4 separate regions of the Homo sapiens genome follow, and regions 2, 3 and 4 are each reported to be linked to region 1. The links are microRNA targets in miRTarBase. Many come from high-throughput screens and were not tested one by one. Region 1 holds a microRNA gene; each other region holds the end of a gene's coding sequence.

Region 1 (7,126 bases):
TTTAACAAATGTTGAACAAATCAACAACTATTAGGGTGACTATATATTCTACTTTTCCTAGGACAGTCACAGTTTATGCTTATTGCACATGTATTAAATATAATTTTTAACTCTCAAAAGTGTCCAATCTGGATGCTAAATTATATACTCATTCTGATGCACCAAGGTAAACCTGCGTGTTACATGCTGATATATATAAAGAACTATAAACAAATGTCCCTTACCTGAAGAAGCATACAAAACTTATTAATGATGCAAGATATATACATAAAATTCTTGCCAAATGTGTTTTTTATTAAAAGCTTCAATTTTTGGTATAGCCAGTAAACACTAAAAATTCAGAGAAGAGATATAAGGATATGGATTAGAATGGTTAAGGCTAGTTTAATGGAGTTGCTGTACTAAAAGACATTGTGGGCATGAAGTCACATAGTTATGGGGATGAAGACGAATATGGTCTACAGCGGATCAATCAACAGTGGAAATGACTGAATATAAAGAAGAGTATGTTAATAAGAATAATAGGTAAGGACTCAGAAATTCTGGTCTCTTGTCCTGCTCTTCCACTGGCTAACTTTGTATCATTGAGAAAATTACTTCTTCATTTTGACTTTAGTTTCTTGATTTGTAAAATGAGGGATTGAACTGGATTCATCCATTCATCAGTTTTTTTATGATGAGATTACTTTGTGCAAGACACTCCACTAAGGACTATGTAAATGATTTTTCAAGTTCCTTTCCTGCTTTAATTTTTATGGTAATCACTTTTGTCACCAATACCTCCAATGATATTGTTGTAGCCAGTTTAGAATCACGTGCTTCTATGTCAAAGAAGAATATTTCTTGCAGGTAAATGTTCCCAAACCAACAAATATTTGTTGCATTAAGTTGAATTGAAACTTTTTTCTTGCAAGTACCCTTTGTTTCCTAATTGGATTAGAACCATGTTTTCATTCCCTGTGATGGTAATGCAACCCTAGAGTGATAAGTGACTGCCAGGAAAAGCTGGCTTTGTGTATTTTCAGACTGTGAATATAGCTGTTATGTTAACAGGTAACTGAGGCTGCAGCCAACTCAGCTGGGAAGCATGAATGCTGTGCAATGGTTTTTTTTTTTTTTTTTGTCCCTGCTTGCAAATGAAACCAGTTTCCCATTTGCCCTACCTCCCCGATCTAAAGAATCTTGCTCTTATTCCCAGTGCTAATCACCTAACAGGAAAGGTCATGCTCCCTGGAGTGGAGTTATGGTACTGAACAGCAAGGAACTCTAGCAACTCAAAGAAGCTGAGTTGTCTTCTGTGAATCCAGCTGATTCAAGGCTACAGGCCCACTTCCCAGTGCAGGTTTTCCTATTTTGAAGGGAGTTGGAAAAGTAACCCTAAAACATCAGTATGGATTATACATCACTTTTGATAATACACACTGATGCTCCCTTCCACTAACTGGATAAGTTGAGGATAGATCTAGCCTAAAAGGAATCTGATGAGCAAGAGAAAATTATTTTTACTTCTCAAATATTCATTCTGTACTTGAAAATTGTGGCATGATAAATGTAGCTGTATATTTATCCATAATTAACTCTGGAGCCTTCTTAATATATAGTATATGCAAAATACAAGATCAAATGCAGATCATGTTTAAGTTGATAGCTCATTCTTTTATCTTTGTCACTTGTCAGAAGTCAGAGACAGATATTGTGTGTGCCTCTACAGGATATAGTTAAAGCCAGGTGGAGTCTACCTCTGACTAATGTATGATTTTCACATTGATATTGATGGTCATGAAGCTAGCAGTAGGGAATTAAATGGAGAGAACTCAAGACTTTATCAAGACAAGTTGAATGAAAACTAAAAGTAGGAAAAAATAGGAGTTATAATAAATGTTTGATCATAAATGAGTGCTACAAGGAAAGCAAATAATCGTGAGGGTATTTATTTTCTCCAGATTGCACTTTTACACACAGAACACGTTGTAAACGTTGTTACCAGGGGTTTCCTCTCACTTTTGGTGTGGTTAGGGATTGGCAGGGAAACTGAAGTCCTTTCAGGAAAATATTCATAGTCAGTACCGTTTACTAATTTTTTAAAAAAATAAGTGAATTTTAAGTGTTAAGAAATTTCTACTAGCTTTCCACATAGATCTGTTGACATTTTTTAAGTGTATTTTTTTTTCAGAAATACATAATCTTGTAGGTTTAAGCCTGTAAATATACAGAGGCACTTTTAAAAGTGTTAAATCAGAGATATGAACAACTGAAAACTAACCAATAGGAGCTGGAAATAGAGTTGTAAGCAAATGGTTGGGAATCTGTCTTTTCAAATATACTGCATGAGAAATATAAATCAGTCTTTGTTTTATTCTGCCAGTCATATTAGAATATTCTACACCCTCAATCTATAAAGCACTCAAAACTTTGAAAACTTCTGACTAAACAAGGAGAAGTAGGAAGAGGAAAAGAAAAAAGCATATGGAATTGCTTGACAATGTGCTGAAATATTAAGCTGCAGACATCTCTGACTAAGTGTATGTGTAAAATAAAGACCAAATTTGAAAGTAGATTATTTATTTTGAAAATGAGCTCAATTATTTCAGGGTCTAGAAGCAAACACAACGTAAACCTCTACTCATCGTGTATGTGTGTCGGTATGTGTTAGTGTTTAATTACCACTGTGGCAAAATAAGAGCATGATCCAAATTCTGTGCCTCATCCCAGAACTTTCAGAGATTATTGACACCTTACAGAGTCATTGTAAAGGATCAGGTGCAGGAAGGAAAATTAAAATGCAAACTCACACTGACGTGCAGAGTGAGTAACCAGTCTTAGAAAACCTGAAAAGCCATGACATTGAGCAAGGCAAACTGGGTTTTAAACAGGCAATGGGAAGGCTTCGTTTTTTGCAATTGAAAAAAAAGCAAAATTCGCTAAGGGAGAGTGAGTGTAAACCTAAAAGAAAGGAAGCTTAATTGAGACCTACAAGATGGTGGGTATGTCTTTTTTCCCTGAGGAGCTATGAAACTTTTCAGGGACAGAAATAATAAGAAAATAGATCTGCATCCATTGTGGTTCAGGGTAACTGACTGGGCTCTTTGCCTAACTACTAGGCAACTTTGCTTAATGTAGAAAGAAATGACTCAGGTTAAACAGAATGCTTCGCTGATTTTTCCAAACAAACCTACTTAAAGAATTTCAGAAACAGGGAGTTTCCTCTCAGATGAGCTAGTGAAAACCTACTCATGCCCCAAACAATGTAGTAAACACAAATTGAGAGCGAGCAACAAAATAGCCCGAGAGTTCAATATAATGTGGAAATTCATAATTTAGAAACAAAGTCTGTCATTTTTAATACCTTCAAACAGGAATTTAACAATGTCTGTCACTGTCCATCTTTGAAATGCAGAGGTATGAGATGTTATATAACCAAGATCTTTAGGTTAGCAAGCATATAGATCAAATATGTTGTAAATGGAATCCTTGTACAATTTTAAACCTTCTTAAAGTGATAATTTGTAATATGTTTTTGACCATTATGTAATACGTTTATTTATTTATTTATTTATTATTTTTTTCTTTTATTATTATACTTTAAGTTTTAGGGTACATGTGCACATTGTGCAGGTTAGTTACATATGTATACATGTGACATGCTGGTGCACTGCACCCACTAGCTCGTCATCTAGCATTAGGTATATCTCCCAATGCTATCCCTCCCCCCTCCCCCCACCCCACCACAGTCCCCAGAGTGTGATATTCCCCTTCCTGTGTCCATGTGTTCTCATTGTTCAATTCCCACCTATGAGTGAGAACATGCAGTGTTTGGTTTTTTGTTCTTGTGATAGTTTACTGAGAATGATGATTTCCAATTTCATCCATGTCCCTACAAAGGACATGAACTCATCATTTTTTATGGCTGCATAGTATTCCATGGTGTATATGTGCCACATTTTCTTAATCCAGTCTATCATTGTTGGACATTTGGATTGGTTCCAAGTCTGTTATTGTGAATAATGCCGCAATAAACATACATGTGCATGTGTCTTGTAATACTTTTGTAGGTTTCAGTAATATTCTACAAGAAGAATGGATAACCTTAATGATCTCGAATATTTCTGGTTTTACTTTTGCTTGAGCAGTTTCATAAATGAATATTTTACTTGGCACATTATTTTTATTATTAAAAGAAAAAGGGCTTCTCCTATTACAAAAAGTAGTTCTATAAATATTTTGATCAAATTTTTAAACTATGTGACAAAACAATGTGAAATAAATATTTCAAATGCCATTTATTGATGAGTAAATTGTAAATATTGCTAAATTCCATTTACAAATTCTTGGAGGAACTTGGTTTTTAAAGGAAAACATCATGATCAATGTATGGATGTGCTCATTAGGAGACTCTTGGCCTTTTTCAGAAGGTTATACTCTGCCATAGTATAAAGAATCCTGGTGTGTTCGGGTGATATTTTCAATCTAAAATCTAGGAGGCAGGTGCTCACTTGTCCTCCTCCATGCTTGGAAAATGCAGGGAGGAGGCCATAGTGGCAACTGTTACCATGATTAATTTCGTTGGGATAGAAGATGGACCCGCTGGTTGTAATCAATGCATTGAGGACTCTCAGATCAGTGGGACTGTGAAATTTTAAACTCCTCAAGGTAGAACACAGTGGTAATGTTTTGAAATTTAAAGATTTTGAAATGCAAGCTACTTTTCTCAGGCCATTTCTTCTAAACAACACAACATAATGTTTAAGCCATGTGTTGTTCACAGATTATAATGTTGCAGTGATAAAATATATACTCCATTGGCAAAAATAAACAGCGGTAAAGGGACTGAGATTCTTGATTTTTAACTTTGTATTTAACCTTGTGTAATGCTGCCTGGAAAATTTTTGTAAAAGTATGAATAGATGTAAGAAGATTAATATATTATTACTGTATTTTACAATCTTTCTGTCCTTGAGTTTGAAGTATATTACAGGTTAAGGTTAAGCCAGGAAGTAAGATTGCTTTATAGAACTTTATAACTTTCAAAATTGACATTTGAAGAAATTGTGCTATACTATAATAGTGAAATAATAGTAATTACAAAGTAAATATAATCATCATTGAAATATAAATTTTCATACATTTTTTGTTCGACACATATTTATATAATACTTAATATATGAAAGGTATTTTCCATTCATAATCTATTTATCTTTAATGATAATCATTTTAGCAGTCTAATACTGGAAGTAGTATTTTCTTCAATTGACTGATGATAACGAATCCTCGAACCATAAAAAGTAGAATTGGATATTGTCAGTCTCTACATCTCTACTTAAATGTATTTTACATTCACTTTAAATGAAAACAATGAAACACATATATCTTTAAGAGTGATTAATGATTAGAAATAAGGGAGGCTTCTTATATGACACGGAATGCTAGTTAGAATAAAGTACACGGCTGGGCCATTGGGAAGTTGAACATTAAAGACTTTGCCAATCACATCTTATCATTTGCCACACTGCAGGTAGAGATTTATCCACATTTTGATCTTATAAGACTCAAATCTCATAGTACACAAAAGGTGTGTGTTACAGAGTGTTTTCAAGCTATGACATACCACAATGAAGCTTGACAGTAAATGTTTAATGGTTGGCTCTTTTGGTAACAAATTGGGCATATTTTTAAAATTATTGACATTCATTTTTGCAATGGCACAAACATCTTTTGAAGACTTACTAAATACAGGGCACTATGCTAAGTGTAATGAAGACAAAAGCAGATTCTGTGCATTCAAGTAGCTTACAGTCTGGGGAATAGAGATTTCTTGACCTTATTTCAAAAGTAGGACCTTTCTATCTTATGGATTTGTGATACAACATCTATTTTATTGCGCTGTTTCTCCTTGTTTCGTTCTCTTTCTTTCTTTCTTTCTTTTCCTTCCTTCCTTCCTGTCCTTCCTTCCTTCATTCTTTCCCTCCCCCTCCCTCCTTCTTTCTTTCTTTCCCTCCCTCCCTTTTTCTTTCTTTTTTCTTTCTTTCCTTCTTTCTTTCTCTCTTTCCTTCTCCTTTCTTTCTTTCTTCCTTTCTTTCTTTCTTTCTTTCTTTTTTTCTTTTCTTTTCTTTTCTTTTCTTTCTTTCATCTGTGTATTTCATCAGTGTCTACACCAGGCTGAAGTGTAGTAGCACAATCGCAGCTCACTATAACCTCGAACTCCCTGTCTCAAGCCATCCTCCTGCTTCTCCTTGTTTCTTAAACTTGAATAAAATGTTTATTCGTAGTAGATTTTCTGCTTTAGCAGATGCCACTGGATTCTGTTGACATATAAAATTCACGAATAGATGCATATATTTTCTCTTAAAACTGTTTTCTGCTTTTGCATAGTCCTTATATTTTAGAACATGAAATCATTTACCCCTGTACTCTGTTAGAAGCTCTTCTGATATGGTGACATTGATTAGTATATTCTCATTTAAAAGTGGAGAAACAGTTCTGTGAAATACTGAACATGGATTTCTGACTAGCTCTCATAGTGAGGGTTTTCTTTTATGATTTGATTAGTTTTCAAAGTAAAAAAAAAATCTATGTCTTTCCAGACTTGGCTAGGTTCAAGTGGTCATCCATATAAGATCAACAAGGGATAAGTTGATTTTCTTTCAACACTTGCTTTCAACATTTTACTTTTTTCCTCATTAAAATTCAAATTGCTCTCAAGAGCAGAGAAGTATGACTACATTTCCCAACAGATAATAATGAAAAATATCATCGAGAAAAGATGTTATGCCATTTTATTTTATTTTAAGTTCCAGGGTACACGTGCAGGATGTGCAGGTTTGTTACATAGGTACACGTGTGCCATGGTGTTTTGCTGCACCTATCACCCCATCACCTAGGTATTAAGCCCAGCACGCATTAGCATTTCATCTTGATGCTCTCCCTCCCCTTACCCCCACTCCCCGGCAAAAAGCCCCAGTGTGTGTTGTTCCCCTCCCTGTGTCCACGTTTTCTCACTGTTCAGCTCCCACTTACAAGCGAGAACATGTGGTGTTTCATTTTCTGTTCCCGTGTTACTTTGCTGAAGATAATGGCTTCCAGCTCCATCCATGCCTCTGCAAAGAACATGATCTTGTTCCTTTTTATG
Region 2 (7,126 bases), not on the chromosome of region 1:
CAGTGCTTCTTGTTCAATGATTTACTTCACAGCTGATTCATAATCAAATGAACAAGAATCTGCAAGAACAGAACATGGTGGGCAGGGTCCAGTAATTCCAAATGTTGTCATCCTAGCTCTTCCTGAAGCATATTGAATCCTCCAAGTATATCCCGTTGTGCTAACTAGGCTTTAAGTCTTTTGTCTGTAGATTCATTCTCAAAGTTTCTCCCTCAGAACAAAGAGCACGCCATCCTGTAAAGTACTCTTCCTGATTTTTTTTCACCCAATTTCTTAGTTTCTTTCAATTGCTTTTCAGACCCCGGCAGGCAGATTCTGCCCTCATCTGTCCAGTGACACTCTTCTGGCAGATTACTAAAGACCGATTTGTAGACCTGTCCATGTGGCCTCTCTCAACACCATTGGTGTGACCTTGCTCATACTGCCTCTCTCACCACTTAACATTGTCCCTTAGATGTTAAAGGCCCTTATATTAATAGTTTTATTTTAGCTCCTTTACATTTTATTTTGTCCTGAGGAATCTCAGCTACATGCATGGTCTTCAATATATGCCGATAATTCTCATTCACATAGCTCTCCTGTTGGCTTTTCCCCACTCGTTTAAAAACAACCACTTCACTTTGCTGGACTCTACCTTGAATGCCTCATTTTCAGCTCACACTCATGCTGTGCCTTTATTTAGATTTGTTGTGGTTGTTTCCCCACATTCTGGAAGCTCCTTACCTAAATCCTGTTTATTCCTTAATGCTTAGCACAATTTATTACTCTTGTTTCCATGGCACTACATTGTACTTCTGTTTTAGAGACTACCTTCCTCTGAAGCATATGACAGGTTCATTTACTATCCAGCCCACCAAAACTCAGTTTTTGAGCTCCTCTATGTTCATCTTTTTATGGCTAACCCTCACCATCATGAGTGCTTAGTAAATGTTGAGTTGGAATGAATTTATTCCTACAGGTTGCACTTGCTCTCTCACCAAGTGTTCTGGCCAAATAATTCTGGAATGATTTCCTTACCTTAAGGGAGTCTGATCTGGGAAGAGCCTGGGACGTGATGTAACTTCATATGCTGTAGAGCTGAATATTCATTTACTTAAGATCTTAGCTCCATTAGAAAGCAGTGAAAGCAGTGTTAATTCAGAGGCCGGGTATGGTGGCTCACGCCTGTAATCCCAGCACTTTGGGAGGCCAAGATGGGCAGATCACTTAAGGTCAGGAGTTCAAGACCAGCCTGGCCAACATGGCAAAACCCCATCTCTACTAAAAATACAAAAATTAGCCGGGTGTGGTGGCACATGCCTGTGATCCCAGCTACTCGGGAGGGTAAGGCAGGAGGAGGTTACAGTGAGCCAAGATCACACCACTGTACTCCTGGGCAACAGAGTTAAACTGTATCAAAAAAAAAATGCAGTATTGATTTAGAGCTAAGGTCACCTGATGCTCAGGCCAGTAATTTCTCCCTGCATCATGCTGTTGTCTAAGGCAGACACTGTAAAGCTCTACACTGCTGAAAAACTAAGCTTGAGATGCATAAAAGAACACATAGAGATGGGGAGTCAGTTCTCCATACATTTTGTGAGTAGAGGCATTGGTGTTTTGTTCCAAACTATCCAATCGAGAATGTTCATATAATGACAGCTTTGGAAGGTAGAGACTATCTTCCTCTGGATCATAGGACAGGTTTGTTTACTATCTGATACAGTCAAAATAGTGTTTCCCTCTAATGCGAAAGTCAGGCCAGTTTGCTTGTGACCTCATTAGATTTGGGCTGTGACGCAAACCCACTGCATGTGCAGTATCCACCTAGCTTGCCCTGTGTCACTCCCATGGGATCTGTGGCTCAAACTCATGTTGCTTGCTATGTTCTAAATAATTAAGTCTGTTGTCTGACCCAGGAGTCTCATGTCTTCTGCCAGCATTCAGAAAACTAGTTTTCAAGAAGGGTAACATCTTAGACCTTTTACAGCTCTTGACACAGAGCAATATTGAGAAATAAAATCAGGTAAAAGTTATTTAATATAGCAGTTCATAATTTAGGCCATGGATCATCTCTGCAGAGAATCCTACCATGCTGCATTCTTGCTTTAAACCTTTCGCCCTCTAAAACAATGCCCAAGAGCCAATGTTAGTCATGGTCTTCCTGTATTTGCTCTAGGTAAGCTGTTTCATAGCCTTCCAGGACAACACTTGCACAGGTTATCTTTAAGCACCAACAAAAGAAATGGAGAAATTTGAGCCATGTATCCTGAGCTCTGAAAGGCAGCAATCATCTTGACCCCAAGCATACACCATGTTCAGCTTCCTCCCCTTGGCCAGGTACCACAGCTACTTCTATCCCAGTGATCAGCAGGCCCTCCAGCATGAAGACCTTTGAGAAGGATCTATAGCTGTCAACTCCTAATATGATTTGTGCACTATCACCTTGAAGTAAACCAGACTAGTTATTTTCATGCTAAGAGTCTGAAAACAGTGCCTTCTTTCTGATGTCTCTTGTAGAATATTGGCAGAGGGATCTCAATTTTTACTTTATACCTGAAGGGCAGCTTTTTGGTCTGATAGTTATAGTGCAATCATTCATATTTTAAATCACAAATACCCCCACTTGTTGATGAAAACTCCAGTCTGTGGCATGGGTGTACATTCACTGCCTAAACCATCTTTGGCCAAAATTTGTGTGTATATGAAGTCATTCTACTTTAGCATACTCAAAGGCATTCCTTTAAACCATTTATCTGCTTGTACACAATAGCCAAAGGAATATTTGTTACTATGGCTGATGTAATAAACTATCATCACAAATTTAGTGGCTGAAAAAAAACAAAGTTATTCTCTTTTACTTCTGGAGTCCAAATTCATGGGGCCAAAATGAAGGTGTTGGCACTCTGCTCTAGGGCAGGATCCGTTTCTTGCCTTTTCCAGTTTCTGGTAGTTGCCAACATTCTTTGGCTTGTGGCCACATCACCTCCAGTCTCTGCCTCTGTGGCAACACTGCCATCTCCTCTTCTGTCTAAAACCTTCCTCTTACATAGACATTTGTGACTGCATTTTAAGGTCACCAGATCATCTAGGATAATCTCCCCTTCTCAAGACCCTTCACTACATCTGCAAAGCCCATTTTTTGCCAACTAAAGTAACATTCACAGGTTGCAGGGATAAGGATGTGGCTGTCTTTTGGGGAATCATTACTCATCCTATCAGTGTGGTAAAGCTTGCAAGTAAATTAAAATTTTGTCACTTTGTTCACAAATCAATTTAGCAGAGGATGGGAATAGGACTAATTATAACCCGTATCCCCACAACAACTCCTAAGTTATTTCCTTATAAATACAAATTCCATACAGGACAGTCTTGGGTAATTGTTATTCTATACTCCTAAGTTTCCTGGTTTGGCTATATTGTCCTCCTGTTATAGTCTTATAACAATTAGTTGACTTCTACAGGTACAAACTACTATTTAAACTACAATTTGAGTTCCCAGAGGGCAGAAAGTTCTGTCTGAACTGTTTTACAGCCAAAGTTGCTTTTTATTGTTTTGGGATGTATTCTCTACTTATACCACAATTTTCGAGGATGATTATTTCAGGTATGCTTTCTGAGAGACTCCACGTGGTTGAGAACTATGATCAATCTCACTGGTGAAACCAGATTCAAAATAAACTTATCCACAGGGTCCATGTCTGATTGGCAAGCTTCCAGGCTGCTGTGCATGTATGGGTAAGGTAGAGGCAAAGAATGAAATAAGTTGGCTCTACCAGCTCTCCGTGGAGCCTTGTTTCACAGTAGGAGGGGTGGATGCTCTCAAGAAACTCCACCATTCATACCAACAAACTTACTTTGCTTCATATGCTAACATTTCCTGTATGTTCCTATTTTCAAAGTTATTTTGAGTTCACAAGAGATTCACTGTGAATTTACGCAATAGCATAATAAATGAATAAACTACCTTTTTTTTTTTTTTGAGACGGAGTCTTGCTCTGTTGCCCAGGCTGGAGTGCAGTGGCGTGATCTCAGCAGGTTCACTGCAACCTCCGCCTCCCGGGTTCAAATGATTCTTCTGCCTCAGCCTCCCAAGTAGCTGGGACCACAGGCGCCCACCACCACACCCGGCTACTTTTTTGTATTTTTAGTAGAGACGGATTTCACCGTGTTAGCCAGGATGGTCTCGATCTCCTGACCTCGTGATCTGCCCGCCTCGGCCTGCTAAAGTGCTGGGATTACAGGTGTGAGCCACCATGCCCAGCCTAAACTACCTATCTTTCTATTTAAAGAATAGATAGAAGAGCTTGAATGTAATATTTATTTGGTGAATTTACATGTGAGGTCATTTACAAAAGAAAGATACAGACAGATGCAGCTTTCAGTGCAGTTTCAAACATTTTCACAACAGGCAATAGTCCATGAGAATTTGGAATGACAGTATAGAATGGCACATGCTTCAGTTTCCTTTGTGTTTCTCTACCCAACCCCAAGATGAAAGAAGGGAGAAGAGTAGAAGAAAATGTCAGTGTTAATGTAAATACAGCCATGCAAATAAAAACTTTTTTAAAGTCAGAGGTCATTCAGAGATGTAGAACATTTCTGTATTTGGGGGTTATCAGAAGGTGCATAATTTAAAAACAAAATGCAGCGGTCTCAAACTTCCCATCATCCAAATCATCTTGAATTATATTAACTGCACCAACTAATTAGTGACCTCCTCAATATTTTCCAAAGATTGACTTTGAAAGGGAGTCATTTCTAATAGTTTCTAAAAAAGATAGCATTTGTAGACAAATCTTTTTGGTTTCAACAGAATTAAGCACCCTTAAGGGGTGTAAAAATGCTCCTTTACTCCCAACAGTGTAAACCATAATTATAATTCGTTCTTAAATAAACCTCTCCCCATCCTGAGTATTTCAAAACAAAAGACCCCTGAAGAACACAACCCTTCCCTCACCAGAAAAATCTAGCATATAAGCAAAAGGATGGTCTATAAAAGTGGAAAATGGAAATAAATCGTAAAGTGATTTCTAAGTAAGGAGGTGGAGTAAAGCTTAAACACTGTCAGTACCCCTAGTGAAGACCTGGACCTGGGTAGTTAGTCCTTAGAGATCAAGGTTAGCTCACTACAAAAAGCACTCTACATGTCCTCAGCATCTTCAAAAATAAGTGGCTCAAAATTCCTTAAGCACATGTAGCCATAGTTAAAGCACTAAACTTGTTATTTCAGGAAATACTATGCTCTGGCTCCAAGTCTTACATCCTTTTTGACCCTTTAGCCACATGTCCTTCACGAGAAATTTTAAGCTATTTTAATACTCCCATATATCACACTTACTCTACCTTTATTTGGGTTTTACATACAAGCAATCTGCACTTTGATTTTAAAAAAGTTCTAAAATTTTTTAAAGGATGGGGTCTTGCTATATTGCCCAGGCTGGAGTGCAGTGGCTATTCGCAGGTGCAATCATCATGGCACATTACAGCCTCGAGCTCCTGGTCTCAAGCCTCTTGCCTCAGCCTCCCTAGTAGCTGAGACTATAAATAGTATATACAGTGCCACTGTACCCTCTATCCTACATTTTTAAAAGCTCACCATTAAATAGTACTAATTATTATAGAAAATAGTCACAGACAATTATAAACACACTACTGTTTCATCTTACCTCTTTGTCTGGTCCACTCCCCCATCAATACTCAGTCTTCCAACACATATATCAATTAGAATATTTTGCATCTGCATAATTTACTGCAAGAAAATCTGCTGTTGTGGACTTTAAGAAGAATGTACACTATCCATTAGAGTGGAAAGGGGCCAAGAGGATTAATAAGTGCCACCAAGTTTCTAAAACTGCAGAATCAGAGGCATTGTGCATGCTGACAATGGTTTAAAGGGTCTCTCAATTTTACTTTAATCCCCCATTTAACCTTTGTTTCTTTCAAAAAATCAACTGAAAGCGGTTAACTGAATATAAATCTATTTTACAGCATTTACTACGTTAATTTAAAAATCAACATGCTGTAAAATACTTACATTATTCACACATATATAGACGGAATCATCCAGAACATAATCAACTGCCAACCCCCCTTAAAAAAAAAATCAACAAATCAGTTTTTATTTGCATGGCCAATTATCATTTGTACTCTTTGCAACTTTATTTAAAAATCCCTTTAACATGTTCTAATCTTTTGTTGCACAGGGAATAAAAGCTGCAAGACTGCAAACTTCCTTCAACAGCCACACCCACAACACCTAGACATGAAACAGATGTAACAAATAACAACACCACAAACAGAAATACTGATTTCCACCATTCAACACAGTTCATGACAGTGTCTTTAGGGTTCAGTTGAAGAGGGGGTAAACTTTTAAAAAGAGGGTCAGTCTGCTTTCCCCCTGTTTTATAATGTTGGTGGTTTTAATCCGTATTTCTTTGCAACTTCTGTCTGGGCATGGGCGGCATCGCAAAGTGAATACAGATGGGCCATCTCCATTTCCGATTTGGCCAGGTTAATAGCTTTGTTGAACATGTCAATGGCTTTCTCCATGTTTCCTCTAAAAGAACAAAATTTTTAAGTCTCAGATTCAACAAGCACTTCACAATATTCAATGAAGGTTGTAAGTGATGGTACATGAAGTCTGACCACTAAGTTTCTTCACAATATTCAATGAAGGTTGTAAGTGATGCTACATGAAGTCTGACCACTAAGTTTCTACTATGATTCTAGTAAAATGCTTCTTTTAAAATAAACAAGAGTACCTACCACATTGAAAGCACTCAATGAATGTCAACTACTATTACAAATACTATGTGCTTACATTATATCCCTTGTATTCTGTGTTTACTGATAAGAACAGTCAGACTAGGGAAATTGATTGGCTTATTTAAAATCACAATTCCGTCTGGTTCCTAAATTTTACATGTTTCTACTGTTAACATGAGACTCCTTTAGAAAGCAGTGACATAATACCGGGACACTAATGACATGCAAGGGCCTTACCTTCACAGACTGATGTGGGCCCACCTCTTTCTGTTTCATCTCTTACCAGCACATCCCCAACCCCATGCATCTCTACTCTTCAGGCAGTCTATGTGAGTTCCTCACACCTACTCAATAAATACTCAGATTTATTGCCTCTGCC
Region 3 (7,126 bases), not on the chromosome of region 1:
TTCTGTTCATTTTACCATCTCCTCTCCCTCCATGCAGTAGGGGCATGTTGCAAATCACAAACTCCAAAAAATTAAACACAGGACATTTAAAAAATTAGCATTGGTATTGAACACTCTCCCCCAAATCAGGATTATTTGCCATTCATATTTTTTCTGTAGTGAACTTTCCACACCATTCTTTCACCAATTTTCTTATTAGGATTTTTCTTCTATTCTTAACCAAAGCTGTTTTACAGGTATTTTTTTTAGTCCATTACTCGCCTTTCCATTTCCTTAACTGTGTGCTTTGAAGAACACAAGCTTTTGAATTTAACAAAATCTAATTTATCAAAGTTTAAAGTGAGTAAATCATTTGTATTATAATTAAGTGCATTAAATTTATTTTTGTATGTTCCATATTTTTATTGTCCTATATAGAAATCATCATCTAACTCAAACCTACAAAAATTTTCTCATGTTTTCTTCTACAAGTTTTAAGTTTGAGCTCTTATATTTAGATCTATGATGAGTAGAGGCTTTATATATGCTTTGGGGAGTCAAAGGTAACACCACTTTTTGAAGACATGTCTTTCCCCTTGGATTTCATTGGCATATTTTCTGAAAATCTCCCAAGCACCTCATGGTTTATGGCTGTGATTCTGGACTCATGTATCCATAATTGTTTTGAATGTCCACATAAATTTATAATCCACTTGTCAAATTTTAATTCAGGTGGCGTTTAATTAATAGAACAATTTGAGGAAAACTGACATCTCGAAAATAGTTTTCTTGCCTATTTTGGCCCTATTTCTGCCATACACATTTTGGAAAACTTTTTCCAGTACTAAGAATAAATATTGGGAGCTTTATTGAAATTGTATTAAATTTATAGAAACATTTAAAGGAAACTGATATTAACAATGGTCTTCCTAATCATTGAAATTTTACTTTATTTTTAATTTTTGTGGGTACATACTAGGTGTATATATCTATGGGGTACATGATATATTTTGATATAGGCATGCAATGTCTAATAATCACATCAGGGTAAATGGGGTATCCATAACCTCAAGCATTTATCCTTTGTGTTACAATTCAATTATACCTTTAAAATGCACAATTATTATTGACTGTAGTAACCTTGTGCTATCAAATACTAGGTCTTAGTCATTCTACATTTTGTGCCCGTTAACATTCCCCACTTCCCCCTCACCATGCCCTCACTGCCTTTCCCGCCTCTGGTAAACATCCTTCTACCCTCTATAAGTTCAGTTGTTTTCATCTTTAGCTCCAACAAATACGTCAGAACATGATGTCTGTCTTGCTGTGCCTGGCTTATTTCACTTAATGATCTCTAGTTCCATCTACAATGTTGCAAATGACAGGATCTCATTCTTTTTTATGGCTGAATAGTACTCCATTGTGTTTATGTACCATATTTTATTTATCCATTCATCTGCTGTTAGACACTTAGGTTGCTTCCAAATCTTGGCTATTGTGAGTAGTGCTACAGTAAACACGGTGCAGATATATCTTCAATATACTGATTTCCTGTCTTTGGGGTATATAACTACCAGTGGAATTGTGGGATTGTATGATAGCTCTATTTTTAGTTTTTGAGGTACCTCCAAATTGTTGTCCATAGTGGTTGTACTAATAACATTTCCACAGTGCACGAGGTTTCCCTTTTCTCCACATCCTCTTCAGCATTTGTTATTATCTGTCTTTTGGAGAGAAGACATTTTAACTGGGGTGAGATGATATCTTATTGTAGTTTTGATTTGCATTTCTCTAATGGATCAATGATGTTGAGTACCTTTTCATATGCCTGTTTGCCATTTGTATGTCTTCTTTTGAGAAACGTCTATTCAGATTTTTGCCCAGTTTTAAATCAGATTTTTTTTTCTATAGAATTGTTATAGCTCCTTATATATTCTGGTTGTGAACACCTTGTCAGATGTTGATACAGTTTGGATATTAGTCCCTGCCCAAATCTCACTTTGAGAGGTAATGCTCAGCGTTAAAGGTGGGTCTTGGTGGAAGGTGTTTTGATCAAGGGAGAGGATCCCTCATTAATTGATGCTGTCCTCACATCAAGGCCCATATTTCTGCCATATACGTTTTGGAAAACTTTTTCCAGTGTTAACAATAAATACTGGGAGTTTTATTGAAATATTAAATTTATAGAAACTGCTATTATTTTAATAACAAGTCTTTAAACATTGAAATTAACTTTATTTTTAAATTTTTGTGGGTACAAAGTAGGTGTATATGTTTATGGGGTACATGAGATATTTTAATACAGGTATGAAATGTGTATAAACACATCAGGGTAAATGGGTATCCATGACCTCAAGCACCCCTCACAAAATCTGAGTACTCACAAGATCTGGTTGTGTGGCACTTCCCTTCCCCCCTCTCTTTGCCCTGCACCTGCCATGTGAGATACTTATTCCCCTTTTGCCTTCCACCATGGTTGGAAACTTCCTGATGCCTCCCTACAAGCTGATCAGATGTTAGCACCATGCTTCCTGTACAGCCTGCAAAACCGTGAGCCAATTAAACCTCTTCTTTATAAATTACTCAGTCTCAAGTATTTCTTTGTAGTACTTCAAAAATGGCCTAATACAGATGGATAGTTTGCAAATATTATCTCACATTCTATGGGTTGTCTCTTCACTTTGTTATTTCCTTTGCAATGCAGAAGATTTTTAACTTGATGTGATCCCATTTGTCCACTTTTGCTTTGGTTGCCTGTTTGTCAGGTATTACACAAGAAATCTTTGCCCACTCCAATGTCCTGGAGAGATTCCCCGATGTTTTCTTTTAGCTGTTTCATAGTTTGAGGTCTTAGATTTAACTTTTTAATTAATTTTGATTTTTGTATATGCTAAGAGATGGGGGTCTAGTTTCATTCTTCTGCATATGGATATCCAGTTTTCCCAGCACCATTTATTAAAGACATTATCTTTTCCCCAGTGTATGTTCTTCATTCCTTTGTCAAAAGTGGTCACCATAGATGTATGAATTTGTTTCTGGGTTGTCTATACTGTTCCTATGTGTCTGTTGTTATGCCAGTATCATGCTGTTTTGGTTACTGTAGCTCTGTTGAATAATTGGAAGTCAGGTAATATGATTCCTCCAGTTTGATTCCTTTTGCTCAGGATAGCTGACTATTCTAAGTCTTTTGTGGTTCCCATATAAATTTTAGGATTGTGTTTTCTATTTCTTTGAAGAATGTTAAAGTTTTCTGGATGTTCCACAGTTTATCCATTAACCTGCTGAATGACATCTTTTTTTTTTTCTTTTTTCCTGAGATGGGGTCTCACTCTGTCTTCCAGGCTAGAGTACAGTGGCACGATCACAGCTCAGTGCAGCCTCAATCTCCCAGGCTCAAGCGATCCTCCCACGTCTCTGCCTCCTGAGTACCTCGGACTACAGGTGCATGCCACCATGCCTGGCTAATTTTTGTATTTTTTGTAGAGACAATTGTGCCATGTTGCCCAGGCTGGTCTCAAACTCCTGAGCTCAAGCAACCCACCCACCTTGACCTTCTAACATGCTAGAATTACAGACATGAGCCACTGAGACCAGCCAGAGTATTTTCTTACTGTCAGGTACATGAGATGATTCAGGCTCATCTTGTATTTCTCCCAATCTCTGACTAGGAATCATCCCTGTTCCCCTTTTTTGTGGATAGTATTTAGGAACTAATAACTTGGCAGTTGGTGTGCTTACTGTTACTGAGGTGTCATTGTGTTTAGGTCCTCTCAGTAGAATGAACACAAAATATATGCATATGTGCACACACAACAATTTATTTATTTGTTCCTATATATTTAAAAGATATGAGTTCTATTCTAATGCCACACTCCAGGTTTTCTAGCTCTCCTCATTCCTATTTTTATAAATACCTTCTCTAATGGAGAAATCTTGCTGTCATCATTCTCAACATATTTATTTGCTCAGTGTTACCAATCTCTCAACAATGCTGCCCATCTCCTCCCCCTGTCCCTTCCACACCTCACCCTCAGCCCTCTTGGTGCCAGCAGACACAAAGCCACAACTCCTCTCATCCCACGAGGCAAGTCTAACTCCTCCACTCTGGGGAAGGAAGGCAGGAGAGATACATGAAAAGTCAAAGGGGGGAATCAAAAGAAAGAGGAATGGAAGTCCACACTGATTTTTTTAAAATAATAAATCTTTTGATTGCCCTAATAAACATCTCTTGGTGATGATATAGTTTATGGATATGGCTAGATGTTTTTTTCAATTTTAGGATTTTGCATCTAAATCTATGAGACTTTGGTCTATAGCTTTATGGGTTTTTTTGTTGTTTTTTTTTTAGGTTTTGTTATCAAGGTTGTACTGGCCTCAAAAACTGAATTGGAAAAGTTCCATCTTTTTTCTTCTAGAAAAGTTTATAAAAGCCTGGTATTATTTCTTAAATATTTGGAATAACTTCAGTGAAGCCATCTGTTCCTAGAGTTTTCTTTCTAAGCAAGTTTTTGAATACTCCACTCAGGTATTGTTTGCAGTTGTGACAAGGCACAACCAATCTCTAGTATGACCTTGTTTCCAGGGCTTTTACTGATGGCATGTTCACCAACCCACTGGCACTTCCTAAGTTCTAATCATTTCTCCTTTGTACTGCAAAATGCAAAACAAAACAAAAATCCTACTTATTATCTTCTCAAATTAGCTTTTCAGGCTCCTGCCCTATGCAGCATGAGACATCTGGAAATTTCTTGAGAAATTATATGTGTTTGAAGCTCCTAATGTATCCATTTTTTTCATTGCAGTCTTGATTGTTCTTCTGGTTTCTGGTCCCCCCCATGCCTTCCCCTGACCCCCAGGTTATGGTCCTCTGCCTGAATCAAGTTCAGTATTCAGGTTCTTCCCTATAGCCAGAAGTGGAAAGGGCCCCCAGAGCTGCATTTTATGCTTGTGCTTTCTGAGATTTACCACTCTCTAGAATTTTGCCCTTTAGTCCTCTTTGCTTCTATAGCAATAAGTTGCATTTAAATATTTTCTGTAATTTTATAGTTATCCTCAATGGGTCCATTCTGCTGCCAACTACTATACCTTACCCAATAGCAAAGTATATTTTTGCTTTTTTTTTGTTTTTTGAATCTCTCTCTGTCACTCAGGCTGGAGTGCAGTGGCATGATCTCAGCTCACTGAAACCCCCACCTCCCAGGTTCAAGTGATCCTCCCACCTCAACCTCTCTAGTAGCCAGGACTACCGATGTGCACCACCATGCCCGGCTAATTTTTGTATTTTTAGTAGAGACAGGGTTTCATCATGTTGGCCAGGCTGGTCTGGAACTCCTGACCTCAGGTGATTTGCCCACCTCAGCCTCCCAAAGTACTGGGATTACAGGCATGAGCCACCATGTCCAGCCTATTTGTGCTTTTTGAAAGCTCCATATTTAAGTTATATCTACACATACATTTTAAAAAGTTGTATCACCTATGAAAGACATGTTTCAGTATGGAGAGAAATAGAGTTGGGTACAATAAGTCACTCACAGCAGAATGTCCTGGCTTATGTGTTAGACATCTGCAGGGCAGAAACCACCAGAAATCTGGACCCACTCTCTTCTACTAATCCTCATAAGTTGCATACAAGGCAAATTGACTTGCTGCTTTGATCCACCATTCTGAGATGGGTCGTCTGAATTTAGTCTGCCCTAGGATTATTCAAAAATCCTGCTGGTGGGCTCCTGTACTATGGCCCCTGATTGATGGTCTTTCTCTTTCTTCTGGACATACAAGAGCACTCTTGTTTGTGGGTCCCCTTGCTAAAAAATCTTCCCTTATTTTTCATATGGCTAAGCAATAAACCTTTGAACTACTTATAGCCATTGGCTTGAGTGGCGTCTTTAGAAGTCTCTTAGAAAATAGCAGTCTTGACAATGAACTAAACTAGATATTAACAAAGTAAAATGCTATTTCTCAATAAAAATATTTTTTCCACATTTTCTTAAATTGCTAGATATCCTGCAACTCAACACCTCTGTTCTATATTAAATTTAGATTTTAACTTAAAACATCCACACATTGGATACAGTTAAAAATACTTTCTCTACTATCTGATGTTCACTGAGAAGCTACTTCTTATTACATATACTCCATAAAATATAACCTCATAGTAAATGCTTTCCTATAGTTTCCTACAGTTTGTGCATTTTCTCTGGCCTCTTGACTTCACACAGAATGATTTTCCACATTCATTACACCCATAGGGTTTCTGTCTTATATGAGTTCTGTGGTGAACAATTAGAGCTGACTTCTGATGAAAGGTTTTCCCACATTCATTACACCCAAAAGGTTTCTCCAAGTGTGTCTTCTCAGGTATTCTGTGAAACTGTAGTAGTAGCAGAAAAATGCATCCCTTCTCAACCTAGGGATGCTGACCCAGGTTTCACCCCGTGTGAATTCTCTGATGTTTAATGAAGAGTGGCATTGGGCAAAATGTTTCCTATATTCATTCACCAATAAGTTTTTTCCACTTTTAGTTTTGTAACATAGTGTATGGTCCAAATTCCAGAATAATGTTTTCCTGCATTCCCTATCTTCATATTGTTTTTTCCCTCTTTAAGTTCTCTTCTATACTGTGAGAACTGACTTCAGGGCAAAGGTGTTCTCATTATCATTATATTAACAGATTTCTCTCACCCTTTATGTTCTGTGTTCTACAAAGTTCTGACTTCACCCAGAGTAATTTCCCTCGTTTACTACATTTATAGGGTTTCTCCCCAAGTGTATTCTCTGATGTACAGTTAGTTTTGACTTAACATAGAATGATTTTCCACAAACATTACATTCATAGGGTTTCTCCCCTGTGTGTGTTCTATGATGTGCAATGAGTTTTGACTTCACACAGAATGATTTTCCACATTGATTACATCCATAGGGTTTCTGTCTTATATGAGTTCTCTGGTGAACAATTAGGGCTGACTTCTGACGGAAGGTTTTCCCACATTCATTACATCCAAAAGGTTTCTCCCCTGTGTGTCTTCTCAGATGTTCTGTGAAACCGGAGTAGTAGCAGAAAAATTTTCCACACTGAATACATTCATAAGGTTTCTCACCTGTGTGAGTTCTTAGATGTTTAGTAAGGGTTGACTTCTCAGAGAATGAC
Region 4 (7,126 bases), not on the chromosome of region 1:
ATACTGGAGAGTGAGCTTTGGTGTCATACTAAGAGATGCAAGTCAGATTACATATTATTCTGGAAATTCTCCCAGGAATAGTTTTTGTGGAATACAGAAATTTGTATTAAAAATTAAAATGAGGAAGTACCCATTCTTCTAGGAGCTATGCACAAGCAGAACGTTTAATGGTTATGTCAACAGTCGCACCTATTTTGAAAACTTGTACTTGCTTTCTGATTCCATCCCGCCCAGCAGTGCCTTCTGCTAGCCTTGCCGAAGATAGGAGTTGACACAGGTTAACTCCACCAGAAATCGTGGAAAGCCTCTTAATGGACTCTCCAATGACACCATTATAAACCTTGATACTTTTAGTTAATGTCTGGGAGGAAAGTCAGACACTGTCAGAAAAAAGAAAAACAATGAATCTGTCAGTCTTTACAATGAGATTTCCAAAATGCTTAAAAAGATAAGGGCCTTTGTTACATGCTATTATTTTTTTAATTGACAGATAACATAGTATGCTTTATCATGTACAACATGATTTTGAAGTCTGTATACATTGTGGAATGCTTAAATCTAGCTAATTAACAAATGCATTATGTCACATAGTTATCACTTTTGTGGTGACAGCACATAATAGCCACTGTTTACATTTTTCAAGAATATATTGTCAGCTGGGCATTTGACTCATGCCTGTAATCCCCGCAATTTGGGAGGCCAAGGCAGGGGGATGGCTTGAGCCCAGAAGTTTGAGACCAGCCTGGGCAACATGGCGAAACCACATCTCTACAAAAAAATAAAAAAAGTTAATGTAGAGAAATAGGAACGCTTTTACACTGTTGGTGGGAGTGTAAATTAGTTCAACCATTGTGGAAGACAGTGTGGCAATTCCTCAAGGACCTAGAACCAGAAATACCATTTGACCCAGCTATCCCATTATCCCATTACTGGATATATACCCAAAGGATTATAAATCATGCTACTATAAAGACACATGCACACATATGTTTATTGCGGCACTATTCACAATAGCAAAGACTTGGAACCAACCCATATGTCCATCAATGATAGACTGGATTAAGAAAATATGGCACATATACACTATGGAATACTATGCAGCCATAAAAAAGGATGAGTTCATGTCCTTTGCAGGGACATGGATGAAGCTGAAAACCATCATTCTCAGCAAACTATCACAAGGACAGAAAACCAAACACCACATGTTCTCACTTATAGGTGGGAATTGAACAATGAGAACACTTGGACACAAGGCGGGGAACATCACACACCAGGGCCTGTTGTGGGGAGGGATAGCATTAGGAGAAATAACTAATGTAAATGATGAGTTGATGGGTGCAGCAAACCAACATGGCACATGTATACCTATGTAAGAAACCTTCAATTGTGTACGTGTACCCTAGAACTTAAAGTATAATTAAAAAAATACCGCACGCCTGTAATCCCAGCACTTTGGGAGGTCGAGGTGGGGGGCTCACGAGGTCAGGAGATTGAGACCATCCTGGCTAACATGGTGAAACCCCTTCTCTACTAAAAATACAAAAAATTAGCCGGGCATGGTGGCGGGTGCCTGTGGTCCCAGCTACTCAGGAGGCTGAGGCAGGAGAATGGCATGAATCCGGGAGGCAGAGCTTATAGTGAGCTGAGATCGTGCCACTGCACTCCAGCCTGGGCGACAGAGCGAGACTCCATCTCAAAAAAAAAAAAAAAAAAATTTAGCAGGGCATTGGTGGTGTGAGCCTGTAGTGCCAGCTGCTTGGGTTGCTGAGGCTGGAAAATTGCTTGAACCTAGGAGGCAGATGTTGCCGTGAGCCGAGATCGTACCACTGCTCTGTAGCCAGCAGAGTAAGACCCTGTCTCAAAAAAAAAAATATTGTCACTAAATATAGTCATCTTGCTATACAGTAGAGCTCCTAAAATTTATTCCTCCAACTTAACTATAACTGTGGATGAACCCAAAAGATATTATGTTAAATAAAATAAACCAGGCACAGAAAGACAAATACCATGATTTCACTCACATGTGGAATCGAAAAAAGTTGATCTCACGGAAGTAGAGAGTAAGATAATGATTGCTGGAGACTGGGGTGCTTAGAAGGGAGGGGTGATGGGGAGATGATAGGAAACATACCATTATTTTTAACTATTTAAATATTAGGATTGGGGAAAAATATTTCAGTTCACAACAAACCTAGCCTGAAGTTAATTTTTTGAAGTATACTTTTTGATAAACATTTTGGCCAAGCTGCTAGAAAATTAATGACAAGATAACTATACTTTGGGTAATGTTGTTATTAACATCAAATAAAACTTGATGGTAACCTGACTTTGATAGGTCACAAGTGAGGGCTCCATAATCATTTGCTATTTCTGAGATTGAAAATACTTGTTTTGGTATAGAGATTGGTTCACAGTGTAGACTTTCTGGCTTAGAATAATAAGTTTTATCCCTCTTCTCTCTGAATGAGGAATTTCTATATCAACTTTTTAATAATCTCCAGAAGCCAACACCCTTTATCTTATAATTCGGTAATACTTGTAATGATCCAGGTAAAGCCTCTTAAATAAGTCCTTGTTTTGCTAATACCATTACTGTATTAAATGCTTTTACTGTATTCTCCCAAAAATTATAGAAGAGAGAATTAGATGAGTCCCCAGAGAAAAGACTGGATTTCCATTACATCTGAAGGGTATGTTAATTTAGTCTTGGCACTTCTACATGACTCATTCTGATGATAAATTATTTAAGAAATTTCCTATAAAAATCTTCCAGTCATTTTATATAAGTATTTTGTAGGCACAGAAAACCTTTTAAAACAAGATATGGTGGACATCTTCAAATGTTGGTCTGGATATGCTATTCAGGAGGGATAAGGCCACACCATGCAGTTTTTATTTGTCTGTCCGACCACAGCATAGCACGTTGTTATAACGGATCCTAGGTGTTATTTTTTAGAAGTTAGATCATGCGTTTTATTCACATATTGGTATCTGTTAGTGCTTATAAACATGGAAGATTGAACCATGTCACACTCTAAAGTGTATGGAACAATTGTATTAAATTTCTGGAAAGAAAATAATATAGTTTCCTTTTTGTAGAGATTTCTCCAAGATTAAACAGAAACGGGCCAATAATGAAATCCAATATTCCAAGGATAGTATTCTCATTTAGAAAGAAGACTTTCAATCAGAGGGTTAAAAAAAATCAGTGAAGCCTGCTTCTGACAAATAGGAATGAGGTTAAATCACTTAGTCTAGGAACTATTCTACATGGTTTTACTATTTAACAGGAAGGGGAGAAAAGGCAAGTTTGATTTATTGAAATGGCTATGGAACCCAAAGAAAAGTTTTACAGCTTGAGCAAACAATAAATGGTCAGAACTGTACAGAATCAGAAAGAGGCTCTGAAGATAGATTACCTTGGAAATGGATTAGTAGACTATTGAATATTTAGGTTAAATACTTGTCTGCTTTGGCAACATTTTCCTATGGTGTGTGCTATTTCCATAAATGCCAGGCAGATTGTATAGGAGCCATGTACGGATCTAATGACTTCTCTGACGAGAGTAGTTAGGACTTGTTTCCCTTCTTTCTGATGGATAACCTTTAGTGAGGTTATTAACTGATACAGCTGGCTGAGTCTTCAAAGGCTGCCGAATGGAATTATGGCTGGCTGTTCGCCTCTGTAAGCATGTGGGAGATGTGGGCATCCTATCTGGGGAGGGCAGGCTGGCTTTGGCGATAAGGAAGGAGATGATGCTGGACACTGAGAGAGCATTTGATGAATATTCTATTACTGGGTGTCTTTTTTATGTGCATTTTTAGATAATAGAAGTGAATATTCGTAGAGTGCTTTGCAATTTTTAAAGGAGAAATGACAGGGGCTTATCATTTAACATTTTTTATGCACCAGACATATTGATACTAAGGTCACACAGCTAGTGAAATGACCAGGGCAGTATTCAGCCTGGAGTTAAACCTGTGCTCTTAAGTGGTGGGTTACCTTGCCTGCCAAGTCTATCCTGAGAGGCTTGTGGGTGCTAGTCACTGCTATTCTTCTTGTGTAGATGATGGAGCAGAAAAGCCAAGTCACAGGCTAAGGAGGGGTAAAACTAGGAGTGGCTCAGAGTCCTGTGTGGTTTCTGTGTCTTCCCGTGATAATGATATTCCCTCACTAGTCCTGTGAGCTAAATTCACATATGAAGAAGGAATCTAAGTGTCTTTTCCACTAAGTTAGCTAATCGGTCTGGTGTGTGTGTGTGTGTGTGTGTGTGTGTGTGTGTGTGTGTGTGTGTGAAAGAGAGAGAGAGAGAGAGAGAGTGTTGGGGAAAGGGAAAGAGTGTAATTTACCATTGGTTTTTTGGTTTTTTGGTTTTTTGTTGTTGTTGTTTTTTTTTTTGGGTGGGGGGGAGTTTTACTCCTGTTGCCCAGGCTGGAGTGCAATAGTGCAATCTCAGCTCACCGCAACCTCCACCTTCCGGGTTCAAGCAATTCTCCGCCTCAGCCTCCTGAGTAGCTGGGATTACAGGCATGTGCCACCACGCCCGGCTAATTTTTTGTGTTTTTAGTAGAGATGGGGGTTCCACCATGCTGGTCAGGCTGGTCTCGAACTCCCGACCTCAGGTGATCCACCCACCTCCCAAAGTGCTGGGATTACAGGCGTGAGCCACCGTGCCTGGCCGGGGTATTTTTATATAACAAACGCCTAGTAAACATCTATAGAAAATACACAGATGAGTGAATCGTGGACAGAGTTTACTATTTGTATGGCTGGTAGTCCTAAGCTTCAGGGTGTCCAATTAGAGTTCTGGTATTACAAAGTGGAAGGGAGTGTGCTTTTAAATTATGTATCAGTACTGTCGTCAGTGCCTTGGTCTGGGAGCAAGAAACACGACAAAGGAAGAAAGACTGTTTGAGTCCCCTCTCGGTAATGTTTTAATGGCAGAGTCTTACACTTGGGAAGTTTCTTCAGATGGTTAGTTTTGATGTTCTTAACTCGGGGCATTTGGTCTTCTAGAGTTCCTTTTGGAAAGAATGTGATCATTAGTGAAGTTTGAGAGTGAAATGGCTAATTTGTCTTGCTGCTTATAACAGGGAGAAATCTCTTCTTAGCCTGAAGCCATTGAGACCCTTCAGAAGATTTGTAGCAATCTCTAGCGTTAAGGAAAAATCCAATGTTTGATGAAAAATATTTAACTCCTGAATGTGTCGTTGTTGGAGGTTGATCTAACAAGTTTGCAAACATATTGTTTGTGCAGTTAATGCAGGGAAGTGTCTAAAATATGTGGTTCTGCTAAGTAAATGGTTCTCAAACAGCCTTCCCTCTTCCTGCTCATAAGGTTGAGTGATGAGAATCTTTTTCTACTTTGCAAACAGACTAATATAATTCTTACTGAGTTTTCCTCCCATCTTTCTTTACCCTTTGATATGACTGCCTTCAGCAGATGGTAAAAATATATGAAAAAGTAATGAACAAACATTGAAAGCCTGGAGATGTGATTTTCCTTTAAATAGTTTATGCATTATTTTTGAGATGGAGATTTTCATATTATCTATTAATATCTTTTTAAAGCACCACCATTTCCAAGTGTTTACTATATTTCAAAATCACTCTACTAAGTGTCTTTAAACTTTTCTCACATAATCTTAATTTAAGCGCATATAAATGCAGAGGCCCTCATCACTTACTCTGGATGTTCTATAGATCCAAACAGAATGGGAAAGTTCTCTGATTTTTTAATCATTTATTCAGCAAATATTTGATTGTTTTCTATGTGTCAGGCACTGTGCTGGGCACAGAAGATCCCATAGTGAAGAAAACAAAACCAAAGAAAAACACAATCTGTGTTTGGAGGCCAATGATAGAGTCAGAAATCAATTAAATATATAAATACACTAGTCCCCACTTATCCAAAGTTTCACTTTCCTTGGTTTCCATTACACATTGTAATGTCTCCTCAACTCTTGACTCAGGCATGACTTGAACATTTCACTAGTTACTAAGCGAAAATTAGTGGTATACTATAAGTATTGTTTTTATCCCTCTGGTGCCTAGCGGAGCATCTGGCACATGGCTTACTAATTGCTCGTTAGTTTAGTTATTGACTAATGGAGAGACAGAAACACATGTGGTAGTTTTTAATGGCCCACTAGGATAAATAACAAACTAAATTGAGATAATAGATAATAATCTATGAGTTCAAGATTGAGAAAGATCAACATGGGTTTGTATTTTAGAATTGAAATAACCTCCTACATCATCAAATTCTTTTCATAAGTAAATTGAAGTTGGAATGGTTCAGTTACTTGGCTGGGCTTAAACAGTCATTGGTAGCAGAATTGCCTTTTCAACCATTTTTATTTTTCTGGAAAGGCTTTGCAGCAGGGCTGAGAGTTTATATGATCTGTGGATGTATAGTTTTGGATAAGTAGAGAAGACAGCATTCCAGACCTAGGGTCTGAGTTAACTGCAAAGTCAATGTGAATAATATGGCTTCTGAAGATAATGAGGAACATTTCATTGAGGAACCTTTCATGGTCAAGTGTGTCTGCAAGGGTGTGAGAATTGCATGGTGTGACTGTTCTATGGAATAATCAATGAACTCTGTTGCCTTTTGACTTCTTTTTACTTTTTCTTTTTTTCGAAATACCTTGTAGCAGAATGGTAAGAGCACAGTTTCTGGAGCTAGAATGCCTGGTAGCCTTGGGAAGTTACTTAATCTGTGCCTCAATTTTCTGATCTGTAAAATGTGAATAATATTGTGCATATCCTCATATTTCTGGTTCCTTAAGAAGGCCCTCATATTTACTACTGTAAATTGAATTGTAGCTCTGTAGCATAGAAGAATAATTTTGTAAATTATTATACATCAATTAGCCACCTCGATATATTTAAGGTCCTAACCATCAGCCATGATTCCACAATCTAAGGAAAACACCCACTCTTTAGCTGAGCCAATGTTTCTGTTCCATCCTACGAGGTAGAGTTTTATGATTTGATTATTCCAGAAGAGCTCTGTAATTATTGTTTCAGATGTAGAGAATCAGGTTGGCTGTAGCCCTTTAACAACCCTATCTTGAGGAGCTTGCTTGGTCAGGTCTATAAGTATAAACAATAAAACTATCA

The links. The annotated mature microRNA hsa-miR-764 reads GCAGGUGCUCACUUGUCCUCCU and lies in region 1 at 4,482-4,503, shown strand. An mRNA with a match to its seed (bases 2 to 7 or 8) in the 3' UTR can be bound and repressed. Matches are read on the target gene's strand: a 7mer-m8 pairs with bases 2 to 8, a 7mer-A1 pairs with bases 2 to 7 and ends in A, and an 8mer does both.
Region 2: miRTarBase lists TOMM70 as a target of hsa-miR-764. Seed matches in the 3' UTR shown: 7mer-m8 at 5,438-5,444.
Region 3: miRTarBase lists ZNF37A as a target of hsa-miR-764. Seed matches in the 3' UTR shown: 7mer-A1 at 5,317-5,323 and 7mer-m8 at 3,418-3,424.
Region 4: miRTarBase lists PBOV1 as a target of hsa-miR-764. Seed matches in the 3' UTR shown: 7mer-A1 at 4,620-4,626.

The regions. Positions count from the first base shown.
Region 1 is chrX:114,634,964-114,642,089 of GRCh38, forward strand. MIR764 (microRNA 764) reads left to right here and starts at 4,472; the gene lies at 4,472-4,556. The region is part of intron 2 of HTR2C (5-hydroxytryptamine receptor 2C); the gene reads left to right.
Region 2 is chr3:100,359,180-100,366,305 of GRCh38, forward strand. TOMM70 (translocase of outer mitochondrial membrane 70) reads right to left here. Exons shown (of 12, transcript NM_014820.5): 12 at 4,252-6,538. The coding sequence ends at 6,385. NIT2 (nitrilase family member 2) reads left to right here. Exons shown (of 10, transcript NM_020202.5): 10 at 1-2,456. Among named protein-coding and RNA genes, the nearest start is that of NIT2, 28 kb to the left of the region's middle.
Region 3 is chr10:38,118,405-38,125,530 of GRCh38, reverse strand. It overlaps ZNF37A (zinc finger protein 37A), which reads right to left. Exons shown (of 8, transcript NM_001324250.3): 8 at 906-7,126. The coding sequence ends at 6,694. Among named protein-coding and RNA genes, the nearest start is that of ZNF37A, 28 kb to the right of the region's middle.
Region 4 is chr6:138,211,593-138,218,718 of GRCh38, forward strand. It overlaps PBOV1 (prostate and breast cancer overexpressed 1), which reads right to left and starts at 6,899. Exons shown (of 1, transcript NM_021635.3): 1 at 4,394-6,899. The coding sequence starts at 6,803. The coding sequence ends at 6,396. The region is part of intron 4 of ARFGEF3 (ARFGEF family member 3); the gene reads left to right.